Regions from separate parts of the Homo sapiens genome. Here region 2 is linked to region 1. The links come from fine-mapping of genetic effects on gene expression. A gene starts in region 1. The other region holds a variant in brackets. All regions are shown on one strand. Distances are between the middles of the regions.

Region 1 (4,400 bases):
ATTCCCTAAATGACCCGGTTAATGTTACTGCATTCCTACAGTTGTCCAAGTTAGAGAAGCCCTTAGGGTTATTATCTCCTCCTTCTTCCTCATTCTATCCACAGCTTTTCAGTCATGTGCAAAACTATGACACGCTTAGGTCTTTGCTTTCACTGTTCCCAATATCTTAAACTTCTTCACTTTTCTGACACCTGTACAACTCCTACTTACTTTCCAAGATGAAACAAAATTATTTAATCTCCAAAACTATGTCCTCTGCCTCAAGGAGCATTTAGTTGCTTCTTTCAAAGTACAAGCATCTCAAGTACATGTTGTATGGTATTTATTTACTGCTGGCTCCCCTATTAGATTAAGGATTCCTTAAGCACAGAGAGCATGATTTCGTCATTTCTGTATCACCAATACTAAGACAAAACGCATAGAACTCGATACATGTGTCAAATAAATAAATACATAAATTTTACAAATCAATGAAAATATTGTTTCACATGATTTCACCGTCTTAAACTTTCTATATGTTTCAATTTTTTGTTAAATTGACTTTTGCTGGTGCTCTTTTGGTGCTTACTTTGGATTAATAATAGAATCATTTTAAATTTTGCACCAAATGACTACAAAGTTAAATGTCTATGTCAAAAGAAAATTTATTGACTTCATTATTAGAATATGAAGTGGTTTTTTTTGCTTTAAAACTTTGTTTAAAATATCTAAGGAGGCCAGGTATTAACTCTGAAAAAACTGTATAATTATTTATAAAACAGATCCCATAGGAGCAACTGAACAGCTGTGGAAAGATTTGGCACATCACTTTGCCAGCCTGAATTTAATGACCTACATGTGAAGGGCTACATATCCAATTACTAATCCTCCCTCAGCTACTCTTTGCCCTCATATGGAGGCAGCTGAAAAAAGATGCCCTACTAACAGATCAGAAGTGGATCCAGACTTTTTTGCCAGTGCTCAGTTAACAAAGATCTTTTAGGTTTGAGATGAGGAAGAAACAGAAGAGGGACTCACAACAGTGTTATAGCTGATACAGTGTTTCAAGTAAAATTTAAGGGCTTATGGCAAGAGTGACTTTAGTTTTGTAACTAAAGTCAAAGAAATTTCGGCTCTTTTAGAGAATCTCAAATTCTGGATTTAATTTTCTATTCACTGAAGCCTTTAAACATGTTCAAATATCTTCAAGGATAATTTACTTCAAAATTCTTTCTATATGAGAAGCCAGTCTTCTATTCAAGATGCAAACCTCATTCTTACCTTCAAATTCTGCAATAATCACCTATTAGAAGTAGAGGAGAAAAAAACTAAATAGAAAATGACAATCTACGGGGTTGTATTTCATTTCTCTCTCAGTTGACATGATCTATATATAGCAAAAGATTATATAAGGTCAAGTATTATAAACAATGAAATGTCATCTGATGTTTTGCAAAACAGCATAGGAAAAATAGCTCAAGGAATGAATAAAGAGTAAAGCTATGGCTGTTTTACTTCAGCCATAAAAAAGCCTTACAGATTCTAAATTTAAATGCATTTTATTGTGAATCTGACTCACTTTTTGAATTTAATTTTCCACTTGAGTTATGTAAAATCATGTGATATGGTAATTTTCTGTATAAATTAAAAATAATATAGGCAAGAGATGTTTTTCTCTCATTTTCAACACAGAAAAATTAGGAGCCTTTCTTCGTTGTTTTGCATTTTTAACAGTGGGACTATCTTAATTCCTTCATCCAATACTCACAAGAATATATGAATGAATACACGTCTGCAGGTACACACTTAATTCTTGAACGGGAAAAAACAGACATCACTGTAACTACCTCCCACTCCCAAAACACTAACTCCAGACCCCGCCCCGCATAAACCCCTCCCCTTTCTTCCATTGCGGGTTCGAAATGGCCGCAGTTCGATGACGTAAGACGCAACCGCCGTAGCCTCCACTGCGTAACTACCGCCCCTGCCTCTGGGAATTGAAGTTTCTGTGGAAGGAAGCGTGAGCCGTAACCAGGCCAACCCAGAAAGGCTTTCTTTCTGAGATTTCACTTCCCTGTCAACTCTTCAGCTCGGTAAGTGTCCTGGCACTGGTTGGCGCTCCCCCGCACTATGGTATTCTCTGGACGCAAAGGGGCGCGTGCCATGCAGCCCCCTACTAGCAACAAGGGCTTCCGGGGGAGAGGGGAGCAGTGGTGTGGAAGTGGTTTCCTGCGGCGCTCTTGCTGAAGGAAATGACGTCGATGACAGGCGCCCCCCGCGGCCTACCCAGCTGCTCCCTGGTTCGCCAGAGACAGCTTAATCCCGTCTCTGAAATGCGTTTGCTGGCTGGGAGCCTAGAAGGGATAGTGGGCGAGGCTCCGCCCCGTGGTGGGGCGCTTTCCGTCGGCGTGTGTTTTGGGGTTGCCATCGGCCCGTAGTATGTGAAAAGTGAGTTTGCAAAGAATCAGTGGGAAATCTGTACTCTAAAGGGCCGGAAAGCGTGTTATGGCCCTGCCACTTCGTGGCTAGAGACCGTGGGCTTTACCTCTTTAAAGCTGCCTTACCTCATTTTTCCTGCAAAGGGCTGACGTCGCTGAACTCTCTGAAATGTAGAGAGCCCGAGGGGAAGTTGCTGCAGGTGCTGTGAGCTGAGGACAGTTTTATAAAGATCGAAGTGTTACTTGATTTCACTGAAATACTTTAAATTTGGGAATTTTTCTACAGATATGAAGAGGATGGCAACACATTACTTGTCACTTTCTGAAAGAATTTCATCTGCCCCTTCCATTCCCAACCCTCTGCCCAAAAGGCTTGACAACTGAAGTGAACAAAGGGCTTTTCGCTCCTCCACGTTTAGTCCGCATGTCTTTTAAAAGGGCATTCCTGGCCGGGCGCGGTGACTCACGTCTGTAATCCCCGCACTTCGGGAGGGCAAGGCGGGTGGATCACCTGAGGTCAGGAGTTCGGGACCAGCCTGACCAACATGGTGAAACCCCGTCTCTACTGAAAATACAAAATTAGCCGGGCGTGGTGGCGCATGCCAGTAATCCCAGCTACTGGGGGGGCTGAGGCAGGAGAACTACTTGAACCCAGAAGGCGGAGGTTGCAATCAGCCGAGATTGCGCCATTGCACTCCAGCCTGGGCAACAAGAGCGAAACTCCGTCTCAAACAAACAAGAAAGGCCGGGCGCAGTGGCTCATGCCTGTAATCCCAGCACTTTGGGAAGCCGAGGCGGGTGGATCACGAGGTCAAGAGATGGAGACCATCCAGGCCAACGTGGTGAAACCCCGTCTCTACTAAAAATAACAAAAATTAGCTGGGCGTGGTAGCGCGCACCTGTAGTCCCAGCTACTCGGGAGGCTGAGGCAGGAGAATCGCTTGAACCCGGGAGGCAGAGGTTGCAGTGAGCCGAGATTGCGCCACTGCACTCCAGCCTGGGCGACCTAGCAAGACTCCCTCTCAAAAAAAAAAAAAAAAAAAAAAAAAAAAGGCATTCCTTTGCTATCGCTGTCAAGTCATTAATTCCAATCTGCATTATTCCCACATTCGTTGAGATTTTTCTGAAAAGGAGACTGTCATAAATTAACGACGATTATTTATTTTATCCCAATCCATAACTTAATGCAGTTTTAAAAAACTTTTTTTTTTCTTTTGGTGCTCATTGATGTAGGATGTGTCCTTGCCTTACAAAGTGAGATAGTTTGTAAGCCCACTTAATAACCTATGTCTGCGAATGAACCCCACAAATTTTTAAAATTTTATGCAGGAGTAAAATTTCACACACACACACACACACACACACATATATATATATATAATTTTTTTTTTTTTTTGGAGACGGAGTCTTACTCTGTTGCCCTAGTTGGAGTGCAGTGCTGCGATCATGGCACACTGCAACCTCTGCCTCCCGGGTTCAAGCGATTCTTCTGCCTCAGCCTCCCGAGTAGCTGGAATTACAGGCGTCCACTACCACGCCTGGCTAATTTTTGTATTTTTAGTAGAGACGAGGTATCGCCATGTTGGTCTTGAACTCCTGACCTCAGGTGATCCGCCCACCTCAGCCTCCCAAAGTGTTGGGATTACAGGCATGAGCCACTGCGCCCGACCTCACACAAATATTTTTATAGTTACTGTAAAATACGTTCTTGAACATTTGTTGAACTTGGTTGAATGAATGAAAATGTACTGTGAGCATCACTGCATGTGAGAAAGGAATGAAAAACTCTGCCATGGAATTTTATAAATTATTGCCCAAACTAAAACAATTAGAAAGCAAGTATACCTAATAAAATGCTGTTTTGCTTAACAGGTAATCTGAACACGCTAGTACATAGTGCAGTGTAGATATACATTATACTTATTGTATAGTGTAGACAGTGCGAGTTGGTAGATATCTTTGTAAAGTATACTATACGGAATA
Region 2 (4,400 bases), 95 kb after region 1:
AGTCAGGCTTCCTTGTTGCTTAGCACATTTGAGAATACACAACTTAGTTTATACCACTTAGTATTTTACATTTACTTATTGCATTTTTCTTTGTTTTCTTGCATATAGAAAAGAATGCATGGAAAACAGGAGTAAAGGGAAGTGTTGAGAGTGGGATAGCAACTCATTAGGATTCTTGGAGTTCTCTCATAAAGTACTAGCAAAATGGTAGCATCTGTTCTTAACTGGTATTTTTAGGAGATTATCATTTAGAAAGCTTGCTTTTTGAAGAAAACTGGAATATGAAAAGTAAAGAGTTTGCTGGTCTTCTCTTTTGGTATAGGAAATTTAAATACCCTCATATACTAGTCTGGGCTGTCTTAAAGTGGAGAACAGAAAGGGAAAGAAGACAGCTCTTTCATTTGTCCTTTGTCTACAAGAATTTCTGCTTACAACATTTGGGGCCAAATTTTAAAGGCCCAAATAAATCTATCAAGAAATAAAACCCCCTAATACTACTGATTTTTGCAACTCTCAAGTCTGACACAAATTCATAACTTTATAAACTGCCTATGCTCCATTGGTAACTGGGCATTGTGTATGCTCAGTTGACTACCATGAATAGACAATCCCCCAAAAGAAGTGACACTGAACTAATGACTGAAGGTGCTGACCATTTCTGTCTCAACAGAAATTGCCTGAAGGGCCAAGGGCTTCTCAGTCAAGAAGTTATTTTTTTAAAAAAACACCCTTTTCAGGAAGATTGCATAAGTTAACTGGCTTTTTTTAGTGCAATAATGGAACCTAAGTGTTGTCCTCTTCTAAACAAAGGTAAATAGGTTCGGGTTAAAGATAACAATTCAGCTACCTTTTGTTGCCCTTTCTCATTTTTATGAGCCTTAGTCACATTTCGTACCCCCTTCCAGTTATTTCAAAGGAGAATAAAGGCTTTATAAGGAATGACAGTTACTAAATAGATTCTATGGATGCGTACTTTATTAGAATTGTTTAGCCTAATCATTAGAATGGAATCATTTAGAATCATTACATGTGTATCCTTGGTTAAAGGAGATGCAGTCAGTACAGATTTTTATGTGCATTTCTAGGAAATTCTTAGCCACATATTTCTGTTTTTTATGCATGGCAACCTCATAAGTAGACACCAAAAACTGAATCACAGTGGCTGGGTAAAATAAAATTTTTGCAGCTTCCTTCATGTAAATATAATGCCCAAAGGGAGAAAGTTACATCGACAGCTACTGCTACTCAACTGGTCTTCAACCTAAAAAAGAAAAATTGGAAACTGCTCTCCAAGCCCTTAGGGGAATCATAATTTTGACAATTCTAATACTAGTTTCTGACATTCCTATAAGAAATCTTTTCCTCTGTTGTCTAGAGATTGGTAGTACATCATATAAAGCTCTCAAGTTCCTTTCAAAGGAAAGTGTTATTTGAAAGATTTAATAATTTAAAAAGACAAATTGACCAGAAACATCACCTCCCTTTCCCAGTGGAATGGGGTCCACTCACTTTCTCAGCCTGCATTGCCTTTGGATGTCTGTGTCTTCTGATAATTTAGGTCAAATTCTTTCTAACTTGTACTGTGTTTGGCCTGGGTGAAGTTGGTCTCTTTATTATTATGGGTTGCAAAGCTACTGGTGCTTCCAGGATCATTGGTATTGACATCAACAGAAACAAATTTAAGAAGGCCATATCTCTGGGAGCTGCTGAATGTTATTAGTTCCAGGGATCTTGAGAAGCCTATCTGACACGTGCTCATTGAAATGAGTGACAACATAGTATTTGAAGTTACAGGCTTTGTTAAAACCAAGGTGTACTCCCCCCTGTAATTTTTAAGATTGCAGATTTTATGGTTGGGCAACCAATATGATTTGGCTGTGTCCCCCCACCCAAATCTCATCTTTAATTTTAGCTTCTATAATTCCATGTGTCATGGGACAGACCCAGTGGGAGGTAATTGAATCATGGTGGCAAGTCTTTCCTGGGCTGTTCTGGTGATAGTGAATAAGTGCCATGAGATCTGATGGTTTTATAAAGGGGAGTTCCCTGGCACAAGCTCTCTCTTTGCCTGGTGCCATATGAGATGTCTCTTTGCTTTTCCTTTG[T/A]CTTCCACCATGATGGTGAGGCCTTCCTAGCCATGTGGAACTGTGAGTCCATTAAACCTCTTTCCTTTATAAATTACCCAGTCTTTGGTATGTATTTATCAGCAGCATGAGAATGGAGTAATACAGCAACCCATCAGTTGCTGGGAATCTGGCTTTTAATAGCCTCTCAGAGTTGGGACGAGGCCTTTAAGATGATCTAATCCAGCCACTATGTAAGAGCAGGGAATCCCTTTCTTGCTGTTGCTACATTAACACTTCCAGTGAGGGGAAATGTCACACAAGAAAAGGCAGCCATTGCCCTTTCAGAAAAGTGGCAGTTTCTCATGTTCACCCTTTAGATAGCTCTCTCCTTCCTCAATGTATCCACAATCAGAAAGATAGGTTCTTTTAGTATCCCAGAATATAATTTGCCAGCATTCAAACCTACCACTTGCTATTTTACCATCATTTGACCTGTATTAGAATTTGTTTCTTAATGTTTAGTCTACCCATGATCGACCTATCAGAGTTTTCCTTACTGAAAAGATGTAAGAAAAATGACCTGAGTAATTCTGCTTTCTCTAGCTACTCTTTTCTCTTCCTTTTTCCTTGTTTGAGACATAGCATTATAACATTAACCACATTAAAAGCCTCCTTATTTGCCCTTAACTTTTTTTTAAAAAAAGAAAGTCTCAAGTCATTCTTTTGGTCTTTAGTTTTGAGACACTGTTCTTATAGGTCCCGAGACTCTATTTTATTATCCTGGATAGCAGGGCTCTCCTTTAATTTGTTGTTCTCTTCTTTGAGAAGTCTGTTTTAAGAGCTCTAGTGCAGCCATGTTGGAATCGTTACATGTGTATCCCTATTCTTCCTCACAGAGATCATTTGCAGAATCCATTGTCAGAGTTTCATCCTTTAAATATTCCTCCCCTTTGAAACAACTTATTGTCTTGAGTACATAGCCATGGGCTCTAACCTATTTTTCCTAAACTTTAAAAAATTTGGCCTTTACAAAGCTTAAATATAAGTCTGATTCTTCTTAATGTTGCTTCCTTGATGATTAGGAAGGAAATCATCTAAGATGACATGGTCATTTCCATCCTTCATCTTACTACCAAATAACGTTCCCTATTTGCATAGAGTTCAGTCAGGAAAAAGAGTTCTTTTCATTGCTCTTTGAGTTGGTTGGAAAATGCAGCTGTCAGCAAACAAAGGCAAAATGAGACTTCCAGCACATATTCAGTTAGTCTCCAGCACTGCTATTCATCACTGAGCCTTATCTCTATGGTTTATTTTGCCTTTTGATTCTTTGTTGAAGTGCTATCCTCTGCACTTAAACTCAGTTATTGAAACTTCGTAGGGATCTTCTAGGTGCACAGAACATTTATTTTTATTTGTAAGTAATTTTCTCACAAAAGGGGGTTATTTTAATGGACAGATTGTGATAAAAAGAGATTATTTTAACTAATGGGAGGAGAGTGGTTTTGCCAGGGATTGCTAAGCAGGAGCAAATCTGACTCCATAATTAAATGCTGTCTTTATATGAAAAAGTCTCTCTTTTTCATTCTCTGACCTTAAACAAGTTGACTGCCCTGAAATCCTGCAATAAGAATTATGGAAAATGTATGATTAATGGAATAGTTCCTTTTGGAACACACTTCATTTGATCCAGTGCTGCTCTTTTTTGGAAAAATAAATAGAAAGGCTCTCTGGAGGTTAAGGCACTAAGAAGACAATAATTTCTAGTATAAATGTGAACATAGCCATACATAATTGATGTCTTTCCAAAACCCAGATTGCTATTTTACCTGATGAAAAGTATTTTTAAGAAGTTTAAAAAACAAAACTAACAAAACACAAAACAGTAAAATGTGAAGGAAAGATTTTAGCTGCTGTGAGTACCATTCATCTTCACGCCTGGCTGCAATCGATGTCAAGAGAATTCCTCACCAACTCCCATCTGCAGGATGTGTCAACACAGTGGTTTAAGCAGCCTCCACTACCACACCTCCAAGAATTAAAATAAAGGGAAATAACCCATCAGCAGTCCAAGAATTAACATAAAATCAAGGCTTAAAACATTTTGGTGGGGTGAATTGTTTGAAGGTTAACACACAGACAAACACACACACACACACACACACACACACACACATTTTGGCTGTCTTAAAAATAAAAGAGAAAAGCAAAAGTGGGTACACGTTCACATATAGTTTCCAAATCTCTTCTAGTCAGAGGATTCTCTTCTAGACTTCATCATAATTTTCTTTCAGCCACTAAAGGTTTTATAATCATTTTTCAATAGCCAGGACACCC

Which allele goes with the higher level. Alleles are on the strand shown, and positions count from the first base shown. SD is a standard deviation of normalised expression in the study named.
In carriers of allele A in region 2, the expression in anterior cingulate cortex of the gene that starts at base 1,946 in region 1 tends to be higher than with T alone (large effect, 1.1 SD a copy in GTEx).

The links. PIP is the estimated chance that this variant, and not a neighbour inherited with it, causes the effect.
Region 2: its variant is fine-mapped to the expression of TRMT10A in anterior cingulate cortex (GTEx, PIP 0.98). The same link has a PIP of 0.9 or more in thyroid.

The regions. Positions count from the first base shown.
Region 1 is chr4:99,561,585-99,565,984 of GRCh38, reverse strand. TRMT10A (tRNA methyltransferase 10A) reads left to right here and starts at 1,946. Exons shown (of 8, transcript NM_001134665.3): 1 at 1,946-2,072. It also overlaps a transcript of MTTP not described here. RefSeq lists enhancers at 1,868-1,927, 2,278-2,407, 1,643-2,842.
Region 2 is chr4:99,466,975-99,471,374 of GRCh38, reverse strand. No RefSeq gene overlaps it. Among named protein-coding and RNA genes, the nearest start is that of ADH7, 34 kb to the right of the region's middle. The variant T/A (reference allele first, on the strand shown) is at 2,106.